Linked DNA regions of Homo sapiens: region 1 is reported to be linked to region 2. The links are microRNA targets in miRTarBase. Many come from high-throughput screens and were not tested one by one. Region 2 holds a microRNA gene; the other region holds the end of a gene's coding sequence.
What was found. The annotated mature microRNA hsa-miR-181a-2-3p reads ACCACUGACCGUUGACUGUACC and lies in region 2 at 2,127-2,148, opposite strand. An mRNA with a match to its seed (bases 2 to 7 or 8) in the 3' UTR can be bound and repressed. Matches are read on the target gene's strand: a 7mer-m8 pairs with bases 2 to 8, a 7mer-A1 pairs with bases 2 to 7 and ends in A, and an 8mer does both.

Region 1 (3,104 bases), not on the chromosome of region 2:
CCCAGGAGACCAAAAGTGACGGGGCCCCAGCTTCAGACTCAAAACCCGGCAGCTCGGAGGCTGCCCCCTCTTCCAAGGAGACCCCCGCAGCCACGGAAGCGCCTAGTTCCACACCCAAGGCCCAGGGCCCCGCAGCCTCTGCAGAAGAGCCCAAGCCGGTGGAGGCCCCGGCAGCTAATTCCGACCAAACCGTAACCGTGAAAGAGTGACAAGGACAGCCTATAGGAAAAACAATACCACTTAAAACAATCTCCTCTCTCTCTCTCTCTCTCTCTCTCTATCTCTCTCTCTATCTCCTCTCTCTCTCTCCTCTCCTATCTCTCCTCTCTCTCTCTCCTATACTAACTTGTTTCAAATTGGAAGTAATGATATGTATTGCCCAAGGAAAAATACAGGATGTTGTCCCATCAAGGGAGGGAGGGGGTGGGAGAATCCAAATAGTATTTTTGTGGGGAAATATCTAATATACCTTCAGTCAACTTTACCAAGAAGTCCTGGATTTCCAAGATCCGCGTCTGAAAGTGCAGTACATCGTTTGTACCTGAAACTGCCGCCACATGCACTCCTCCACCGCTGAGAGTTGAATAGCTTTTCTTCTGCAATGGGAGTTGGGAGTGATGCGTTTGATTCTGCCCACAGGGCCTGTGCCAAGGCAATCAGATCTTTATGAGAGCAGTATTTTCTGTGTTTTCTTTTTAATTTACAGCCTTTCTTATTTTGATATTTTTTTAATGTTGTGGATGAATGCCAGCTTTCAGACAGAGCCCACTTAGCTTGTCCACATGGATCTCAATGCCAATCCTCCATTCTTCCTCTCCAGATATTTTTGGGAGTGACAAACATTCTCTCATCCTACTTAGCCTACCTAGATTTCTCATGACGAGTTAATGCATGTCCGTGGTTGGGTGCACCTGTAGTTCTGTTTATTGGTCAGTGGAAATGAAAAAAAAAAAAAAAAAAAGTCTGCGTTCATTGCAGTTCCAGTTTCTCTTCCATTCTGTGTCACAGACACCAACACACCACTCATTGGAAAATGGAAAAAAAAAACAAAAAAAAAACAAAAAAATGTACAATGGATGCATTGAAATTATATGTAATTGTATAAATGGTGCAACAGTAATAAAGTTAAACAATTAAAAAGAAGTAATAAAGACTATTGGGTTTTTTGTTCTGTTTGTTTTACTTTTCTAGTCCCCTTCAATAACTACTTTATCAGAGAACAGAGCACTGTATTGGCCATTTTTCTGAATATATTTGGATAGAAGTAAAAAAATAGACCAGGGACGGTGGATCACGCCTGTAATCCCAGCACTTTTGGAGGCCGAGGCAGGTGGATGGCTTGAGCCCAAGAGTTGAGGACCAGCCTGAGTAAGATAGTGAGACCCCACCTCTATTTAAAAAAAAAAAAATGCCAACATTATTTGTTGAAAAAAATAGCTAGGGCAATGTCAGTAAACTATCTCAGAAGAAGTTAAACTGAAAACTTACTGCATCTATGCATATGCACCCTCTGAAAATGTAACTAATTAAGAAGAAGAAAGATTTTGAATAAAACACGTTAAAAGACAATAAATAGATTTGATCTTGAAGGCTGGGGAAAAAATGAATGACAGGATCTTATAGAAACCTGTGTTTGTAAATTGTGGCACCACTAATGGTTATTCTGTTCTATCCCATCCCCTATTTTTATTTTTATCATATTCATGGTAGAGCCAGGAAAGGCCACCTGAGAATTGTGCTATGAGACAGCAGTGATGCGGAAGCAAGCATGGAGCCGGCCTTTATGGTGACCGGATTTCGGTCCTGATTTTGCCACTAGTGACTTGGATGGGTTTTAAGTCACTTCCAACCTTCCCAGACCTTCCTTGCTTTACTTACAAAAGGGTGTAGCCTTTATGATCTCTGAGGCAAGGTCCCATTTAATGGTTTGGGTACATACCCGGTGACAATTTAATGTCACGATGCATAGGTATGCACAGACTGATGGGATGTCTCTTCCATGTCTTGATTCTCCAAAACTCACAGAGTAATGAATAACAATTTCATAGTTTAGAAAACTCCGACATAGGAAATGTCCTGTGGAATGTGTGAAGGCCAGTGTAATGGAATTGATTCTCAAAGGGACATTAATGACACAATGGATTCAGACGAACCTGGTTCCATTCTTACGGGTTACATTACACATGGTTAAATAAAAAAGGGAAAAAAATCTTTGAGTATTTTGGGAGTAGCCTATAGTCTGTCTCTTACCTCATTGGGAAAGAAAAAGTGGTGAAAGTGAGGATTATGTAAGTATTATACCCGTTGGGTTCAACTGGTATTTATGATCATTTTTTGGCACTTTGGGTTCTTGTTTCTATAGTGAGATAAATTTGAATTCTTAATGCTTGAAAGCACAGCATACAAGAAATCTGTAAACACAGTAACCACCAGGCAACTGTTTTACATAAGGAAAAAGAAGGGGAATGTCCAGGTAATTACCCGCGTGTCCTCGCATATACAAAATAGCTTGGGGGCCGGTGATGGTGATGGAGTGGTAAAAGATTCAGTGAACCATGGAGGACATTTATATAGTTACTGATTAAATGCCATGCATTTATTGCAGAAAAATATGCTTGGTGGAAGTAATATTTTATATATTCACTGTCTTCCCCACTTCCCCTTCTTCTAATAAAAAAAATGCTAAGCTTTTTGGTAATTAGAACAATCAAATCAGCCTCCCAGATTAGCATTTATTACTACAAATTGCCATTTTTTGAATAAATGAAACTGAGACATTTTTCTGAATTTATTTGGAGTTGCAGAGTAGGAGAATTAAAATCTGAGCTATATATATTTATTTTTCTTTTTTATAACTCCATTAGGTGTTGAAGCAACTAAAAAGTGTTAGAAATATAGTCACCAAAATGTTTAAATCAGAATTTTAACCTAGCCATGGTTCATGACATTGAATTTTACCATACTGAAGAAAAAAACTTGAGCTGTAGTTTGAAGTTGTATATGCAGCAGAAAATGTAGTACGTGTGGGAGTAATTGGCTCAGCCAGGAAGGGAACAATGTTGGGCCATGTTAATTTGGATTAACCTAGATTGTTCTTGCCTCAT
Region 2 (3,254 bases):
TGTTTTTCTTTCTTTAACATGGGATTTAGTGGCTTATCTCATGTTACAGGATTTAGAGAGTTGATACTACATTTAAATTTTTTGTTAAGAAAAATGTACATCTTCTATCTCACTTAGGTGTTTTTCCTGTTTGAGGGACATGGTTTGCAAAGGTTAGAATGAATGAGCCTCATAGTTTTTGTCAAAAGAGAATATTGATGTACATCTGAATAATAACCAGAACATTCATATTAAGTCATACTATATAGCCATTTAAAAGAATGACGAGTACATAAAAGACTGTTGTGGAAGTCTATGATATATAGCTGAATAACAAAATAGATTATAGAACAATAGGTAAAAATGAGCTTATTTTTGTCTAAGCCACTCTCCCCCCAAAACATGCAAAATTACAGCTATTTATCTGTGTATGTATGGATAAAGGTCTTCAAGGATATAAAATAAATTCTAGTTATGATATTTATTATCTTAATAAGTTTATTATAATTATACATGTTTTCCTCCGAGGAAATGGATTGCAGATGATGATTGAAGGGATTTTCAATTTTTACTTTGTATATTTTTGTATTTGAATTTCTAAATAATAAGCATATGATTCTGTTTAGAAATTCTGAATGTACTGATTTTTAAAATGTGATGTGATATCCAGATATGTATTTAATTCTTCCTATAAAATATCATTTCCTTAAATCTAGACTATTGAAAAAGGAGAAAAGTACTAGGAATTTAGAGAACTTACTCCATGTTAGAACCAAGGAGAACAAGAAAAGCTTTAGCTAGTGTTTTGGAAATAGTAGCAGCTCCCACTCACAGCAGTAGCTGCTGCACTCAGGCGACTCTCTGCACATGCTTTTGCTTCCTTTGGGTTGTTTGGTCCGCAGTTTGCATTCATTGATCAGTGAGTTGATTCAGACTCAAACCCACCGACAGCAATGAATGTTGAGTGCAGCCATCAGTGTTTTCAGTTGGTGGGGTTGCCTTTGCCCTCCCTGGCTGACTCCTGGCTCTTCTTTTCCATCTCAGTTCTTTGAAGTCTGTGTGTCTGGCTTCTCCCTTAGTAACCAGCCATCTGCATGATTGAGGGCCCACACAGGTGTCCATAACATTGACATTGGAGCTGGGAGGTTATTGCAGATGAGGAAGCTGTGGTTCAGAGAAGGAAGGAGTGCTTGGAGAACCTCACAGGTAGCACTGCGCCACACAGGCAGTGCTTGCATATTAGTACCTGTAAACCACAGCTGAGGGACCTGCTTTTCCTCTTTGTTTTGAACTGAGAAGTATGAGTGCTTTTTTGAGGTAAATTAGCAGATTATGTTGGAGTTTAATAATAACAGCTTACATATATTGAGCATTTGCTGTGGGCTAGTAATGGTACAAAGCACCTTATATATTATCTCATTGAGTCTCAAAACTCCATGATAGGTACTCTTAGCCTCTGTTTTATATGTGAGAAAACTGAGACACTTGCTTAGGGGGTCAAATAACTAGTTAAGGGCTTGAGCCAAGATTCATCCCAGATCTGACTGACTCCAGGGCTAAGTTTTTGCTTGAATTTAGCAAACATTTAAATAAGCATATGTGGGGATATGTGGGCACTAGTAAGGCAATAGCTCATGCTCTAACTGGGATATCAAAAATTAACCATATTAACTATAATTCAAAGTGAAATGTGATAAGAACTGTCACAATTGGATAATTTTGTGCTATTTTTGCTTATTAAATCCTCCCCTTGCCCCTAATTAAAAATTTTGAGAGGATGTGGGAGAAATGGGAGTAATTATTTAACTGGATTTTATTCCAAAACAAAATACGTATTTTTAATAAATTTTTACTTGCTACGTCCTGTTTCTCACCAGAATGGTGCATATCTAGGAGACATGTAGGTACATTAGATATCATCATGGACTGCTCCTTACCTTGTTGAAATGAAACACTTTTTTTGTAAAAACAAACAAATAATAATAAAACACACAACAGAAAGCAAGGAACAGTGAGCAGTAGGAATAAAATTCACTGGACCACATTTGGGGGATTGCAGGACCATTTCTGGTGAACTCATGTGACATGTGAAGGTACAGCTTGCTCTTTTGCTTCAGGAAATGTAGTGTCGTCTGTAAGGACCCCAAGGTACAGTCAACGGTCAGTGGTTTTTTCAAATCCCAAACTCACCGACAGCGTTGAATGTTCCTTGGAGTCCTCTGAAGGCTGGCCTGATAGCCCTTCTTCATTCTCCCATCCACATCCCAAGAACCAGTGAGCAGTGAGACCACCGCTGATGGATGCTCTTACATTCCTCTCTGGGTTTCAAGTCGAGAGTATTTAAATTATAAAATCAATTTGTGTGCAGCAGAGAACTAATGAACTGTGGGATAGACTGTGCAGTAATTTGTACAAGCAGACTCAAATGAATGTCTGAGAAAATGTCTTTGAATGGTATTATTTTGTGATTCTAAAAATGTAAAATACCTGATTTTGCAGTAGTATTTTAATTGTTAACAAGGGTAAGAGATTAACATATATTGGGGATCTGCTATATACTAGGATTTGTATATTTTATCTCATTAAATTCTCAACAACCCACATTTTCCTGATGAAAAAACTTGAAGTGATTTGCCTAAAGTTACATTGCCAGGAGCCAAGGTTATAAGCCAGAATTTGAATACTGGACTTCATGTTTCCAGTGCTCACTCATCATACTGCTTCTGTTGTCTACTACAGAACTTACTGTTGATATCTAGGAGTAGACCCATCACTGCAGAGCCAAAGTCAAACATGTAAATTTCTTCTACTTGTTTGCCTATAATAATAGCAGGTAGGTCTATAGGTGAGGTCATAGGGGAAGATGAAAAACCTCGACCTCCATGATTGATGATCTCCTTTGCTGAGATCCTGCATTACTAAGTTACCACAGAGGTGTTAGTGATAGTCCACAAGCTATTTTCCATATTGAAAAAGCAAAAAATAAACCAAAAACCCACCACCTAATGTAAAGCTTGCATTTCTTCTTAGTTGAGAACACAGAGTGTAACTAAAATGTCAGATGTCATTTGTTCTGGCTGAAACGATACCAGTACATTATAGGACATAGTGGTTATTTTTGATTCTGTTGAATGTCTGTGATGAAAAATTTGAAAAATGAATTAATAATATGAATCTTCAGAATATGTGATTTACAATGGGACAGATCTAGGAATACTTAATAGGAAAAGGGCTTACAGAACTGCCTGCTGAATTGAAGTTAATCTCTAAATGGG

Region 1: the mRNA of BASP1 is a reported target of hsa-miR-181a-2-3p. Seed matches in the 3' UTR shown: 8mer at 931-938.

What each region holds. Positions count from the first base shown.
Region 1 is chr5:17,275,692-17,278,795 of GRCh38, forward strand. BASP1 (brain abundant membrane attached signal protein 1) reads left to right here. Exons shown (of 2, transcript NM_006317.5): 2 at 1-1,143. The coding sequence ends at 209. Among named protein-coding and RNA genes, the nearest start is that of BASP1, 60 kb to the left of the region's middle. RefSeq lists an enhancer at 1-443.
Region 2 is chr9:124,691,412-124,694,665 of GRCh38, reverse strand. It overlaps MIR181A2 (microRNA 181a-2), which reads right to left and starts at 2,224; the gene lies at 2,115-2,224. All of the region lies in intron 2 of NR6A1 (nuclear receptor subfamily 6 group A member 1), which reads left to right. The region is part of intron 1 of MIR181A2HG (MIR181A2 host gene); the gene reads right to left. MIR181B2 (microRNA 181b-2) reads right to left here and starts at 956; the gene lies at 868-956.